Linked DNA regions of Homo sapiens: region 2 is linked to region 1. The links come from fine-mapping of genetic effects on gene expression. Tissue or cell type: esophagus muscle. Region 1 holds a variant in brackets; the other region holds the start of a gene. All regions are shown on one strand. Distances are between the middles of the regions.

The links. PIP is the estimated chance that this variant, and not a neighbour inherited with it, causes the effect.
Region 2: WHRN starts here. The variant in region 1 is fine-mapped to the expression of WHRN in esophagus muscle (GTEx, PIP 0.93).

Annotation. Positions count from the first base shown.
Region 1 is chr9:114,181,914-114,190,176 of GRCh38, reverse strand. It overlaps COL27A1 (collagen type XXVII alpha 1 chain), which reads right to left. Exons shown (of 61, transcript NM_032888.4): 5 at 7,102-7,155. Among named protein-coding and RNA genes, the nearest start is that of MIR455, 23 kb to the left of the region's middle. The variant G/A (reference allele first, on the strand shown) is at 3,852.
Region 2 is chr9:114,501,312-114,509,311 of GRCh38, reverse strand. WHRN (whirlin) reads left to right here and starts at 3,839. Exons shown (of 12, transcript NM_015404.4): 1 at 3,839-5,128. The coding sequence starts at 4,511. RefSeq lists a silencer at 3,745-4,044 and enhancers at 3,569-4,459, 4,460-5,350.

The sequences.
Region 1 (8,263 bases):
AAATGTTTCACAAATGAGCAAATGAGTGAACAGAGTCTCAAGAGACAATGGTAGGGATAGGAATGGGTCAAATCTGGCTCCTGCCCCAGAACTGTCTCTGAATTTTCACTAGGCCTCTCACTATCAGTACGACTATTTTCATGGGTCTAGAAGTTCTGGACAATGCAATAAGGCAGGAAAAATAAATAAGAACTACTAACCTTTGAGGAAAATGAGACAACAATATGTTCTTTTCTGCAAATAATGTGAATGCCTATCTATAAAATCCAGGAGACCCAACAGAAATACTAATAGAATTAATAAGGTGATTCAGTAAGGGGATGGTTATAAATTAAATACAAAAAGTAAAAAAATACAAAAATCAATAGTTATTTTCACTAGATGAGAGCTATCTAGAAAATATAATGGGGAGAATATTCCATTCAGGACAGCAAAAAAATATATAAAATTTCTAAGTATAAACCTAATAAGAAATGTGCAGGGCTTATGTAATAAAAACCATTAAAGTTTACTAAGAGACATTGTAAAAATTCAACCAAATAGGAAGACATGCCATGTTTTTAGATAGAAAAATGTAATATTTTAAAGACGGCAATTCTTCACAAATTAATATATGTATTTAATTACAATTCCAGTAAAAATCCCAAGCGTTTTTTCAAGGAAATTATTAAGATAGGCATAAGGTTCATCTGATAGAATAAATAGCCAGAAATGTTTTAAATGAAGAAAAGAAGGAGGATACACAGAATAAAGATAGTAAATGTCATATAATTGGTATTTTACTAGCATAAAAATAAATAAACAATGAAACATAATACAATGGCTTGTATTAGACCCATGTCTATCATAGAGTAAACAGTGGAGGAAAGATGGTTTAACAAGTGGTTAACTGTTGGAGGAGAAATAATGCTGGAGCCCAACTTCATTTCCATCACCCCCATTAACATGAATTCCAGATGGTTTTAATTTTTTAAGAGTACAAATGATTTTATGAAATTACAAGGAATATAAATGAATACCTATCTGACCTTAAAATGGGAAAAACATTCCTATGTATAAAAGCAAAATAAAGAACCACAGATTTTATAGATGAATAGAGCCCTCCTGAGATTATCTGACACATTATTTTTTTTAAAGGATAACATTTCTATTTGTGAAAATCATCATGAATACTCTTAAGAAGCAAACAACAAACTAGAAAATATTTGTAAGGTGGATGAAGCCTTAATAACCTCAAAATAATGTTTACAAACCAATAACAAATGGCAACATCCCAACCTTCCAAAATAAACCCACTCATAAGTGGTGAAGTACAAATGGAAAAGAGATTTAAGAAAAACATACATCTCATAGATGATCAATGAAGTGAAAATGATAATAAATTATCTTCTTTTAAAAATATCTTCCTTTAATGCTAGCAGCAGCATAAATCAGTTTAACCTTTCTAGAAGGCAATTGCTAATAAAATAACAGCTAAGCACTTATATGTCTCTCATGTGCAAGGCATATTATAAATCATTTGTATATATGTGTATGTATGCCTGTGTATGTATATACAAATATATCTTGGTATATGTCTTGATATATGTCTACATATACATATATAAATACACATATATGTGTGCACATACACACACACACAGTTTAATCCTCAGAACAATCCTATGAGGTATGAACTATGATCATCCTTGTTTTACAGAAGTGGAAGCTGAGGCCCTCCAAGTTTTAAGTAACTTGCCCAAAGTCATACAAGCAGCAAATGGTAGTGAGGTGGGAGATGAGACTTGACTCTGGAGGCAGGGCTTGGACTTGGGACCAAATTGAGGACTAGCTAAAACAGGCATGAGGTAGAATCACCTCTCAGGTGACAACCTGAAAGTGACTGCCCCTTTCCATGGCAATGACCTGATGACCTGGAAGTTACCACCACTTTTCTAGAAATGTCTGCATACTCTGCCTCTTAATTTGCATATAATTAAAGGTGGGCATAAATATGACTGCAGAATTGCCTCTGAACCGTTACTGTCAGCACACTGCCTATGGGGTAGCCCTGCTGTGCCGGAGCAGTCACGGAGCTGTACTGCCACATCAATAAAGCTGTTTTCTTCTACCACCAGCTGGCTGTTGAATTCTTTCCTGAGTGAAGCCAAAAACCCTCCCAGGCTAATCCCCAATTTGGGGCTTGTCTGCCCTGCATCAGTAGAGCCAGGATTCAAACTTGGGCACACTGACTCCTGAGACCACATCAGCAATTCTATTTTTGATGAACTTATCCTAATGAAATAATTGGAGATATTCTAACATTTACATACAGTAATGTTAATCAAGATAATATTTGTATATTAATTTAAAGTGGAACTGATTTTTTTTTACTAATGGAGTAAGTTATATAAAGCATGGGATATTAGTGTTGATAAAATGCCATGAAGCTATTAAATCATATGTGATGGATGCCAAGTTGCTAACACAGGAGAATGTTCACAATAATTGTTAAGTGAGGAAGGCCAGATACCCAGCCACTACAAAGTGGATCCACACTCACATATGTGACACACACAGGGAAGACCAGAGAGCTGTGGAGCTGAGGGCTAGATTGACACCTTGAGGTCAGACAGTTGAGGGTTTGAATGCGTGCTCTGCCACTTACTAGAAATGTGACACTGGGCAAGTTATTTAGCATCTTGGACCTATTCCCTCATCTGTAAAATGGGGGTAATAATACCTGCCCTGCAAAGTACATAAAGCTCTTGGCCGGGGCCTGGCCCAAAGGTTGCTCAAAGTGCTCTCAGAGCTTATTACTGGGCAGGACCACTACAGATAGCTCACTTTCTTCTTGACATCTTCTGGACTTCTCCATATTTTCCTTGGGTGGCTGAGGCCCAGGGTGGGGCTGAGACAAATGAGCACTAAATCACAAAGGATTAAAATATTCTGGGCTGGAAGCCCCCTGCATACTCCATCTCTGATCTCAAGTGCCCAGCACAGGGCCTGGCCCAAAGGAAGGAACATTAGAGGAAGAGGAAAGGTAAAGCTCACACTAGCTCTGCCAGCAGCCACCTGGGCCATGGAGCCTGCCCTCTGCTGACCACATCTCCTTCCCAGTGTCTGAGGGCCATATCATCCTGGCTAGTTCACTGCAGACCAAGTGGACCAGACCAGAGACAAGGTGGCTGGCTGCTCAAGAGTGGAACCAGGAGCCTCATGGCCCAGTGCAGGGAGCACTGGCGGGGAGCACTAGCTTCCCTATCCAGAAGGAGACCCCCACCTCTGCCCTAGAGCTCCTCATTTGCACCAAGGACCTGCATCCCACCTGACTCCACCATGGTCCAGCATCAGCACCCTGCCCCAGGGGCAGCTCCAGCCCTCCATCTGGCCACCAGCCAAGCTCTGCTTCTCAAATGGCCTAAATGGCGTTTGCAGACCTCATCCAGTCATGTCAATTCTGCTGAAATCCTTTCCAGGTCTTCCAGCTGCTCTTTGGATAAAGTCCGAAAATCATACCGCAAACTACCAGGCCTGTTGCCCTCACCAGCCTCCTCCAGCCCCTTTGCCTAGTCGTCCACTATACTTTAGACCTTGGTTCAACCTTCCTGCCCTCTGAGAAGGTGTCCCTCACCTCCCGGACTAGATCAATCCCCATATCGTGGGGTCTCCGAGCACTCCGGGCCTCTCACATGGAGCCCTAGAGACCTAATCATGGTGTAAGTCTGCATTTGTCAATATGGTTGGCTTGTTTTGCTTTCTCGCTCACCTCTACACTCCCCAAGGGCAGGGACCATGCCTGCCTGTGTCCCTGGTAGCCCCAGTGCCTCACACATGCAGACAACTGCCCCTTCTGCAGCACCTGCCAC[G/A]GGTCAGCACCGCTCTAAGCGGAAACACATCCTCTCAGGGTCCTAGCTTCTCTGCCTCATTCTCAAAGTCCTGGATCCAACTCTGTGCTGGAGCTGACAAGCTCCCTTCCCTGCTGGATTGGAACATGGGATATGTGGGTAGCTGGCAGATAGGCAAAGCCTTGGACTCTGGAGGAGGAAGATGGGGTGTGGCCTGGCTCTGGCCTGTGCCAGCTGTGACACCCTGACAAAGCTCCTTCTGGCAGGCAAACCCAAGGATCTGAAATACAGTCCCCCCACTGCCCAGCCGTGATCTAGGCAAGGTCCCTTGGCCTCCTGAACTTTCACTCTTCTGCACCCTCCGGAGGGATGAGGTCCCTCACCTCTGCTTTCTCTCTTTCTTGGTCTTCCTCAAACCACCCATCTCTCCCACCCTTGAGTCTAGCAGAGGGATCGTCTTCCCACAAGGCCATAAGCACCTGAAGGTGGAGATGCACTGATGGGATGACTGCATGGGGCTGATCCAGTTCCGTGCCCCCAGGGCAAGCCCTGACAGTGTGACTGATTTATCTGTCAACAGCCCGTAGTGGGTGCTCAATACACGTTTGTTGACTGAAGGAGGATGAATGGATGTGTGGCCCCAGACACCATGCTGGAAGAGGACGGGACAGCATAGGCCCTGGGGGAGGCCAGCCCTACAGTCCCACCAGGTCACCTCCCATCCCAAAGGGGATCTGCTGAACAGTAAGGACTCTAGGACCCTCTTCCCAGGGTCCCACCCATTCATGCAGACACACAGCTTTCTCAGCCAATCTCAGCCAAGTCATTACTTCCATCCAGGGAAGGCCTCTGCTTTAACCTTGTCCTGCCCATGCCACAGATCAGCCTAGGGCCCTGGCCCAGTTAACTGGGCCTCCCACCAGCCTGCTCTGGGGCCACCTCTGTTCACCCTTGGCCTCAGGGCCAAGTGTCCAGGCAAAGGGCATGACATTTCCCCCTGGCATTTTATGCAAGTCCCAATGAGAGAAGCAGCCTCTGATTCCAGTGTATTTTATAGAACCCACATCCTTATCTATTATACACAGATGCAAATGGGAGTCCTGTCCATGAGGCCCTGAGTCCATGGTTCCCAGCTCCATGTGGTGGCAGGAGAACTCACTTGCTAGGGAGGAGCCTCAGTGGTCATACTAAGAGATGTGTTCAAAATGCGAGGAGAAACAGCTGGCAGGCCCTCCTCCTACCATGGCACATCTGTTAGCAAGATTGGGGTGGGCTACCATGGGCCTGGTACTGAGGTTCCACAGTGCTCTGAGCAGGGCCAGCAGAAGGGGCTGATGGAGCATCTGCTACCACAGGAGCAGGGAGTGAGTCTGGGGGTGGGAGGAGACAGGCTCCACTGGTCCCAGAGCAGGCCAGGAAGGGGCAAGCCTGGCCATTCAAAACAGCTGCTGATGCTCGGCATCTTGATGTGCCATGGCCTCTGCAAAGCAGAACTCTCCAAATGAGTTCCTGCCTCTCTGCCTGACCCATGGGGGCAGTCTCCACTGCCATTTCCTAGACAATGTCTTACTCGACCCGTGCCTCAGTTTCCCCATCTGTAAATGGGTACGGTATCTCCACCCATCTCTTTAGGTCTTTGTGGTGATCAAATGAGACAAGCCACATCAAACGCATGAACAGTGCCTGGCACACAGGAAGGGTTCAGTATATGGCTGTTATTATCATCAGTGTTCACCCTGTGAAAGCCCAGAGCACCTCCAGGCAGCTGCTAAGCACTGGACACCTGAGGCCTCCACTGCCTGCCTTCCGGAAAGGAACCCAGCCCAGCCCAACCCTGGACGTAGAGTCACAGATCTAGAGGGGCTGAGGCCAGTGCTCCTGCACTCTGCTCTGCCCCAAGACTCTGACACCACAGATCCATATGCCCAGGGCTACCATGTGAGACCTCTGTCCAAAGCTCCCAGACAAGCTGATGGGCCAAAAGGAGCCCTACTCCATGACTCAGGAGAGATGGGCTTTAGAGGCTGCTCAGCAGCTCACTGTGCATGGCCTGGAGCCAATCAGTTAAGGGCTTCCCTTAAGCCATTCAACCTCTGCAGCTGGGTTATCAAAGAATGACCCGGGACCTGGCCCAACCAAAGCACGGGGGTGCTCTTCACCTGGTTACCCCACAGATGACACAGGCTGAGCTGGGAGGCCCCTGAGTCAGGAGCCCATCTGCCCCCTCCACAGCTCCTTCGGCACAGGCACTGTTCTCTTAGCTTCAGGGACTTTAGCATCTTCCTTCCCCTCCTATCTCTCCAGCCATTCCACAAACTTTCTTTTCCCATGACCTAAATGTTGCTGGCTCCGGCAATCCTCTTGGTGCTCTGAGTTTCTCACTTCCAATGCAGTGCCCCAACAACCTTGCCCTCTGCCAGAGCTCCGGGAACAGACTGAAGAGCTCAGCAAGTGGTGTTCCCATATCATCAAAGCATCAGCCACTAAGGTCTCATTAAAAGTGAATTCGAGTATTCCAAGAAGACTCCCTGGGGGAGGTGGCATCTCTGCGCCAGCCTCCCCCTGGCTCTGTCTCCAGCTCAGAGCAATCCTGAGTTCCAGAATATCTGTCCATGAATGATCACTTGACCGGGCTACATGTTCCTGCGTGCAACATCATCTTACTCCTCCTCCTGGGACCCAGTTCAGTCCCCAAGGCTAACATCAGGGAGGTAAAAACTGTCTGGTGTTTGTAACTGTCTCTCACCTTGCACCCACCACCATCCTTTCCACCCTACCTCCTCCCACACCCCTAAGTTGGCCCGGACTAGCCTCCTTTCTCCCCCATATCACCCCTGGTCTCCCGGCCTTGGCTCTGGTTCCCCACCCCGCATTCATCCTCCTCAGGGCATCCAGTGAGCTTTCTAAAACGTCATCTTTCCACATCCCTCCCCAGGATGCATCTTACAACCCGGTAAGCCTTATGTTCTTAGTCTGACATTCAAGGCCAGCCTTCCCTATTTAGCAAGAAATCACCTCTCTGCCCACTCCCCTGAAGGCTCTGGGTTCCAACTGCCCGACTCTCCCAAGTCTCTCCCAGACGGAAGCACTGTGTCTCCGGACCAGGCACAGGGCCCAGCCCTGGAAAGGGGCCCAGAGGGTGCCCCTGGCTTAGGCGGGAATCCCCCTCAGTTCCCCTGAAGCCCTCCCACCAGGCACCCCTGGGAAGCACTGCAAACATGGCTCCAACCCCAGCACCCACTCCATGGCCACATCTCCAGCAAATACTCACTTTGGCTCCAGGAGGGCCGGGGAGACCTGGATTTCCATAAGGCCCAGGAGGACCCTGAAAGAGACAAGGAACAAAAACAAAAAAAGGTGACAAAAAACAGGGGCCATCTCGCCTCTGACAGCAATGCCTGGCACCTTCCCTCCACCCACTGGTTTATCTTCTCCCCAAGCCAAGCCCTAGCAACACTGTCGTGGCCACTCAGCCTACTTTTGGGAGTACACCCTCCATGCCTGGCCCAGTGGGAAGCACATCCCATGTGCCATCTCATTTGATCCTGTTAACCTGGAAGGTAGGTGGTGTTGTTATTACTATTTTGAAGACGAGGATGCCAATGTTCACAGAGGTTCGTAACTGTCTCAGATCACCCAGCTGCTAAGAGGCAGAGCTGGACCTTGACCTCGGAGCACAAGTCCTTCACCCCTAAATTTTACCACCTCTCCACATCTCTCAGCCTAGCCCCGTCAGCCCTTCCCAGCTTCTTCAGGCTCAAACCACACTTAGCTATGCATTTCCCTCCCACGTATCTGGTACTTTCTCTCCTCGTTGCGTTTGCCCATGCTGTTCCCTCATCTGGCAGCATCTTTTCTCATCCATCTCCTCTGCTTGAAACCTGATCCATCCTTCAGGCCTGGCTCAAAGTGCCATCTCCTCCGGGGAACCCTCTAGGGCTCCTCCAGTCTCAAGTGGACTTTTTTTTTTAGAGGCAGGGTCTTGCTCTGTCGCCTGGGCTAGACTGTAGTGGTATGATCATGGCTCACTGCAGCCTCAAACTCCTCGGCTCAAGAGATCCTCCCACCTTAGCCTCCTGAGTAGCTGGGACTCCAAGCATGGGCCACTAATTTTTATTATTTTATTATTATTTTTATTTTATTATTTTTATTATTTTATTATTATTATTTTATAGAGATGGAGTCTTGCTATGCTGCCCAGGCTGGTCTCGAATTCCTGGCCTGAAGCAATCCTCCTGCCTTGGCCTTCTGAAGTGCTGGGATTACAGGCGTGAGCCACGGCAGCTGGCCCCAACTGGACTTTTGTATGAGTCTTTGGAGTTGAGAGCTCAAGAAGGATGTATTTGACCTCTTGTGAACAAAGGTGCACCTCTCCTGTGGCTACAACACGTGATCAGACCCTTAGACACCTGCAAGCTCCAAGCTTTCAAGGT
Region 2 (8,000 bases), 320 kb before region 1:
GTGACATCTTCTTGACTAAACCCCTGTTCATTCCTTCCACCACAAAATGTCAGCTTATGAAACAGGAATCGTTCATATGTAGCTTGTTTTTAACCTTTGATATTCCCAGCCAAATTTTCTAGAGAAAGAGTGACCCTCATACCATTCCCATCCATGGGAAAATGTGGTCCTCATACCAGCCCCAGCAGAGATACTGAGACAGTTCAGCATTTCTGAGCCAAACATTGGGGGGATCGCACAGCACAGGGGTTCAAAGTAGGAGCTCTGCGGCCAGACTGTTTGGGTTCAAATCCCAACTCTTCCATTCACTACTTCTGTAAATTTGGGTATGGTTACTTCCCTATGTCTCAATGTCCTGTCTGTTTCACCAGGAGCATGATGATGATGGTGGTGATGATGATGGTATCTCCCTTACAGAGTAGTGGGAGGACACAATGAGTTAAAATACAAGCGTCTAAAACAGTTTGACACTCAATAAACATTAGCTTTATTTTTCTGTATGTCCCATGGCAAAGGCACCTCAAATTCATCTCCATTGCTTTTAAAGGTACATTCCAGCAGATAAAGGGAAAGGAGAGACACTTCCAATGACTATGAAATATTTATTAGCAAAAGACTTTTTAAGATTGACATAACAAAGAGGGAAAATAACTCTATGTTACTCCATGAGTTGCAACATGTTTTCATTTGCTGCACAGAACATGAAACATACAGGTTGCAGTTGTCTTCTGGGGAGGCAGGATGTTGGGGAGGCAGGACGTTTGGGAGCCTTATTTTACAAATGAAAGGTGAAGCCACTTGCTGTGGGGTCACACAACTAGTTAAAGGGAAGCTCTGAGACTGGAATAATGGTTTTCTGCCTGGTATCCAGAGTGCAGCTCAACTTCTTGGTTAAAATCAACACATAGGAACTAAACCACTGGCCTGCTGTGGTGACTTACATCTGTAATTCCAGCACCCTGGGAGGCCAAGGTGGATGGATTGCTTAACCCCAGGAGTTCGAGACCAGCCTGGGCAACATGGTGAAATCCTGTCTTCATGAAAAATACAAAAAATTAGCCAGGCATTGCAGTGCCAGCTAACCAGGAGGCTGAGGTGGGAGGATACTGTGCCTGGTAGTGGAGGCTGCAGTGAGCCATGATCATGCCACTGTACTGCAGCCTGGGTGACAGAATGAGACCGTCTAGAAAAAAAAAGAAAAAGAAAAACGCCCAACACAATTTATTCTTCTTCCTTCTGTCTTTTCAACTGCTCCAGTGTGTTCAAGTTTCCAGGAACATTCCTAAGGGAAGGGAAGGGCATTCACTGGCCAGAGCTGGGGAGCGTTAATGAACAATTAAAAGTGGCTTTGGTGAAGAAAGCAAACGGAAGCCTGCTGCATGCATGGGAGAATAATATTTTCCCTCTGAAGAGGGCAGTATGCAACCAAGGGCAAGTTGTGTACTCAGGTTTTTCTCCCAGGTCTTGCAGTGCAGCCCTCAGAAGCTGAAGCATTTATTTCCAAGAGCTTATTTCTGAATGACAAACATCTTCATACATGAAATAGGATTCTGGAGGTTTGAGCACAGTTACACACTGCCTCTTGCCTGAGGGGACACAGTGCAAACTGATACTAAGGTGGTTATGTAAGATGGATGGAAGAAACTCCAACGATTTCTTTTTCTATCATCTGCCCTCCCAAACCGTCCTCTATGAAATTAAACAACAGCACAGCATTTCAGACGGTCTCTGATGTTTGCAGAAGAAAGTGTTTCTTTTTCTACTAAGACTGCATGCAGCCTGGTTTCTGCTGCCTAAAGCAAAACACCTTCTTGAAAACATCCTTTGCACAGAAATAAAATGTTGGGACTGGGGATCTTAGCTCCTGGGATGCATTTATCAAACCAATCACAGTAATTATAATTAAAACAAACTAAGTGAGAGCTGAGCATGAAACACATTAGCAGGAAACCTGAACTGCATACAATTAAGCCCTGCTTGGTGGCATTTTGAGGTATGTCATTAATACATTTTTGGGGTGGAGAAGATTGATTTTTTTTCCTTAAACATCTTGGTCTAGTTGCATGAAAGGCTTCAACAACAGTTACAAAGGAGGAATAAGGATAGACACCATTAACTGCTAAGATTAGAGCTTTAAGACAGATGGCCAAAGGTAGCCTAATTGGCTATTTTTTAAAAAATCTTCCTCAGACACACTGTTAAATATGTTTATTGGGCATTAATTTAACCTATGTCTGTTTTAGGGAAGTAAAGAATTGAAGATCTTTAGGGAAAACACAGCTTCCATTCCTAGCCTCAATGCATTAAGTCAGCAGTGTTGAAAACCTTTCCACTCTTCCCCATTGTCTAGAGGAGAAAGTCCGTTTTCCTTACAGGTTCTTCATTCAGGTGTCGCCTCTTCAGTAAAGTCCTTACCATATTCTCCTCTCCTAAACCTGGGCTCCCTCGCCATTACAACAGGTATCACACTGGTTTTTAACTCTATTTATTTGATCTTTCTCCCCTGGGTCTCCAGCACCCAGCACATGACCCAGCACAGAGCAGATGCTTCAAAAACGTTGAATGAAAAGCGACCAAATAAATAAATAAATAAATAAATAAATAAATAAATAAATAAATGAATGATCTATCCTTCTGGGTCCACCACAAACCAAATCCTCCAGGTAATCCTCCATCTTGCCCTACCCTGGATAGATGTCAGCTGGCTCTGCAATGGAAATTCTGGAAGACTTTTACGAAAAATACATAGAAGAGTAGCTTAGGAGAGGCAGCTCAGGTTGGAAGGGATGTGTGTGAGGTAGGGTGTGTGTGTGTATGTGTGTGTGTGTGTGTGTAGCACTATGAAGCTCCCCATTAGAATAAAAGCACAGGATTTTACTTAAATCTTATTTGGGGGATTGGGTGGGTGACGACCGACTCCAGGGCACACCTGGGTGTATCTTCCCATTTTGCCTAGGGATGGGAGAGCATAGAAGAGATTTTTCTCCAAGCCACTTCAAATATGTATATTTTTAATTTCTATTTTGAGATTGTAGATCCAAATGCAGTTCTAAGAAATAATACATAGACATGCCATGTACCCTTCACCCAGTTTCCCCCGATGTTGACACGATGGCAACCAGGACATTGACATTGATAAAATCCACCCACCTTACTCAGATTTCACCAGTTTTATATGCGCTCATTTGTACGTGTGTGCGCGAGCGTGGGGTGTACACTTTATATAATATTTCTGAAAGTGGCTTTTCCCTTGCAATGGAGACTGGGAAGGGGTCCAGCCTGATCCATCCCTGCCACGGAGTTGACTCCGGCAGACAGCAGTCTATGCTTGTATTCGTCTCTCGCACACAGTAGGTGGCCAACGACCGTCCACATAAACCCTGGAATTTGTCATGTCAGGGCGCGTGCAGGAGGGGAGCGCCACATTGTAAGGAAGAAAACCGAGACTGAAGTGCCCAGTATTTTGGAAGCAAAAATCAAACAAACAAAAAACTTGACGATTTCCCCCCGAATTGTGAATTAGCTAGCCGGCTAATTACTCCAAAGCGATCCTGGTGTCGGCACTCGCTGCGACCGCCGAAGAGCGCTGTTTCTGAGCCCCGCTCCCGGCTCTGCCGGCGGGGTAGGGGACGCGGGGGCTCCTCCCACCCCTACCGCCGCGTTCACCCCTTTCTTCCCTGGGGCTGGACTGTTTCACCCCGTCTCCAGGCAACGGCCAGGCGCACCGGGCGGGACGTCATTTCCTGAGGAGCCCGTGGGGAGGGGGCGGGCAGGAGGAGGGACGAGGGGGCGGGGCCCGGGCCGGGCTGGCAACGAGACGGCGTCGGAACTCGCTGGAAGACTCGGCCCGGGTGGCTCAACAGTTCGCAAAGTCCGGGCTTGCGGCCGGGCGGCGCAGAGGCGCGGAGGCTCCCCGGGCGGCTGCATCCCGGGGCTGCCCCGGACATGCCCCGCACCCCTTGTCGGACGCCCGCGCCGCTTCACCGGCTGCCACTCCCCGGAGTGCTCTGGGACTAGAGCGCCCTCCGCCCCAACTTCTGACTTTGGGGTCCCCCAGCCCTAGAGGAACGGGCGCCCGGCTGGGGGAGCCCCGGGCATGGTGTGACGGGGCAGTCAGGTCAGCTTTGCGGCGCCCCCAAACTCCAGCCACCCGTCGTCTCCGTGCCCTCCAGAATGTAGCTGCTGACCCCGCGCCCCCCGGACTCCAGCAGCAGTCTCCGCCACCTCCGGGCTCCAGCAGCCAACTCTTGTGTCTCTCAGGAACCCGCCGACGTCTCCGCGTCCCCCGGATTCCAGGTTCGCGACCCCCGCCGTCTTCGCGCCTCCGGGACTCTAGCAGCGGTCTCCGCGACCCCCTAGGATCCAGCCACTGTACCCGTGCTCCCCAAACCCAGGCTCCAGCCGTCGTCTCCGCGCTCCCGGGGATCCAGCTGTCGCGCCAGTACCCGCGAGGACAGCGGCACCGCCCACACCCCGCGCGCTCAGAGCCCGGCCGGGCCTCGGCGTGGAGATGAACGCGCCGCTGGACGGCCTGTCGGTGAGCTCGTCCTCCACCGGCTCGCTGGGCTCGGCGGCCGGGGCGGGCGGCGGCGGGGGCGCGGGGCTGCGGTTACTGTCTGCCAACGTGCGCCAGCTGCACCAAGCGCTGACCGCGCTGCTGAGCGAGGCGGAGCGGGAGCAGTTCACCCACTGCCTGAACGCTTACCACGCGCGCCGCAACGTCTTCGACCTGGTGCGCACCCTGCGCGTGCTGCTGGACAGTCCGGTCAAGCGGCGCCTGCTGCCCATGCTTCGTCTGGTCATCCCGCGCTCCGACCAGCTGCTCTTCGACCAATACACGGCCGAGGGCCTCTACCTGCCCGCCACCACCCCCTACAGGCAGCCCGCCTGGGGCGGCCCCGACAGCGCGGGGCCAGGGGAGGTGCGCCTGGTGAGTTTGCGGCGTGCCAAGGCCCACGAGGGCTTGGGCTTCAGCATCCGTGGGGGCTCGGAGCACGGCGTGGGCATCTACGTGTCTCTGGTGGAACCAGGCTCTCTAGCTGAGAAGGAAGGACTGCGGGTCGGGGACCAGATTCTGCGCGTCAACGACAAATCCCTGGCCCGGGTGACCCACGCGGAGGCCGTCAAGGTAAGGCTGTGGTTTGGAGAGAGTCTGGGGCAGAGTATGGACAGAGTGGCACAGCTTTTTCAGTAACTCCATGCTGTGTGTCCTTAGATGAATCACTTGGCCTTTCTGGGCTTTTTTTTTTTTTTTAATACTTTAAAACAGGAATGTATAGCTTACAGAGCAAATAGCTCTCAGGCACTGGGAACGTAGTTCTGCACAGACATGGCCCTTGCCTTTGTGAGGCTTAAAAGCTAGTGCAGGTGATAGTAACAAATACTTGAGCAAATGTGTGGTTACAATGTGTGAATAGGGCTGTGGATTCTTATGAGCATTAAAAGAGATAAAATCTCTGCTTGGCATAATTAGGTGGCCTTTGCTACTGCCATTCTGTGGTTTTTTGTTTTTTGTTTTTCCCTGAAACAGTTTTGTTAGCTCTTAAGTGGCCTGAGGAGGCCGTTTGTGTGATCCACAGTGCACTGGCTTGACGCTGCTGTTTTTGGACCAGGTTGTGTATCCTGAAGCAAGTCACTTGCCCTCTCAGGACCTCTTGTTCTCCACTTGGAAAATGGGGCCACTGGACCAAATAAGCGGTCCCTAACCTTTTTGGAAATGAGACTCCTGCCTGAATGTAAAAAATAAATTCCCTAGCCCCTGAGAGTGTTTGTCCTTTCTGCCATTTGTTAATTGAGAAATATAACCTCATGACAACAGGCTTCCAGGGATTTAATCATGCTTTTTAAAGGAGTGTGTGTGCTTACTGATCTACAGCCCAGGGCTACTGAAAACCAGTTGGAGTATGATGGATAGTGTTGGGTCCAGGGTGGATTCATGGATCCTTTGCAGGCATTTTTCCCCCTTCCCCCCTCCCCCGACCTCCTTTGCGTACAAGAAGTGAAGAGTTTGGGGGAAAAGGGACACATGCTCTGCTTCTGCAGAGAAATGCTTCTCAGGGGGTTGGACTGTTCTGTAAACCCCCACTCCCCGCCAGCGCAGGTGTTTTGAACTCCAGCTGAGGGCCTGCTGGCTGCTGGGAAACTCCTAGGCAGCAGAGGCCCACGACTACTTCCTCCTGAGTGCCGTTCAGTGGCCTGTGTCCAGGTGAGTCTTGAGCCGTCTCCCTGGCTGTGCACCTGATGTTGGCTTCCCTCATTTGCTTCCCAGCCCATCAACCCCTTTGGAGGAAGCCCTTGAGGCTTTCAGAAACTTCTTTGTAGCTTCTGGAAAAAGGCCGATCGGTTTATACTGCATCAGGGTGCAGTGGGCAAAGCTCGTTGTGAGTTTCCATGCAACAATTCCTCTTCCCCCTCTATCAATCTTTTCCCTTTGTTTAGCATTCCATATATTTATAAAGAAGTAGTCCATTAGCCTTGGCCTTAAATGGTCTGGAGTTCCCAGATGATAAATTTATGCACTAAAGATACTTGAGGCAAATGATCATTTGTAAATGTGGATTCAGTTTTAGTGGCAATTTAAAAAGACTTGGGTAACTTAACGGTCACAAGGTGATAAGGTGATATGCTTTGGAAAGGCTGTCAGTTACCTTGGGCATTCAAAACGCAGACTGTCCCTTCAATTTGCACCCCAGACTCAGCTGTGCCATAAAGGTCAAGCTGCTTGGCTGTGAGTTTCAGTTTACCAGCAGTGCTCCCCGCCTGCCACCCCCGCCTTCCCCCACCACCATTTCATTGAGCCCGCTCCAGATCTTCTCTCTGAATCTCCCTCAGTAACACCATGGTGCTGTTAAACTGTGACTCAGAGCAGCACCAGCCTTTAGCTTGTTTGTTTACTCTTGCTGCTTCCAGAGTAAAACCTAAACTCTCCATGTCATAGTTTTTGAAGCCTGAGAATAAACCCTTGCTGGCAAGGGAGAGGTTGATAGGAGCAGAGCTGTCCTTTAAGTGTGGCAGCCTGTGGTGCAGGAGCCTGTGTGAGCTGAGCAGCTCTGTCTCTTGACTGTCATTTTCCCAACAGAGGTGGCTACATTGGCAAAATGAGCTCTTGCCCCAGGGTCACCCCACTTCTAGCCATGGCGGGACACATAACCTGCCTGACATGGACCCTTTGGACCCTTCAGAAGCAACAGGCAAAATGATGGCTGCTTTGTGTTACATTAACCCCAGGAGGAAAAGAGGACAGACTTTTCTTTGGTGGGTGGAATTTTAAAATGGAGGAGGCGGAACTTCTTCCCTGAGGCCATGGCACTCCTCGTGTAGTTTCAGGGACAGTTTAAAAGAACACCTGGAGAACTGTTGACACATTTCCACAAAATTAAGAGCGAAAAGCCCCTTAACTGAAAGCTGAAAGAGGCCCCAGCTTTTCTACTAGGCACAGACTGCCCTTAACCAGGATTTCTCCACGGGGAGCCGTTCTTTGTAAACTGCAGTGCTGCGAGTCACCATGTCGGGGATTTTATGGTAAAAGTACATTACTGTTAACTGGACTTCAGACTTCATTCAAATTTCACCAGTTTTTCTGCCTATGTCCTTATTTTATTCTAGGATACCACATTGCATTTAGTAGAAGATGTGTTTTCAGTCTTAACAATATTTTTTTTCCTGCGATGGAAGGTGGGGTGAGGGGGAGGAGATCCTCTGAGCTTCCCAAACGGAGAGATTCAGTGTGTGTGTGTGTGTGTGTGTGTGTGTGTGTGTGTAATAAAAATTAAATTAAATTAAATTTTAGGAATCAAGTTACCTAATAATTTATGAATAAAGGAAAGTTGCAGCTTTTTAAAGAGTGGGTCGAGCAAAGTTTTTTCCACTTCTCTTTCTGATAAATCAAGCATCCATTGTTACCTGAAGCAGTTCAGTGAGGATTTGATCCTATATCCATTGGGGCTTCCACCCCTCTCTTGAAACCCATTTGCAAAATCAGCAGTGACAGGTCCAGATAA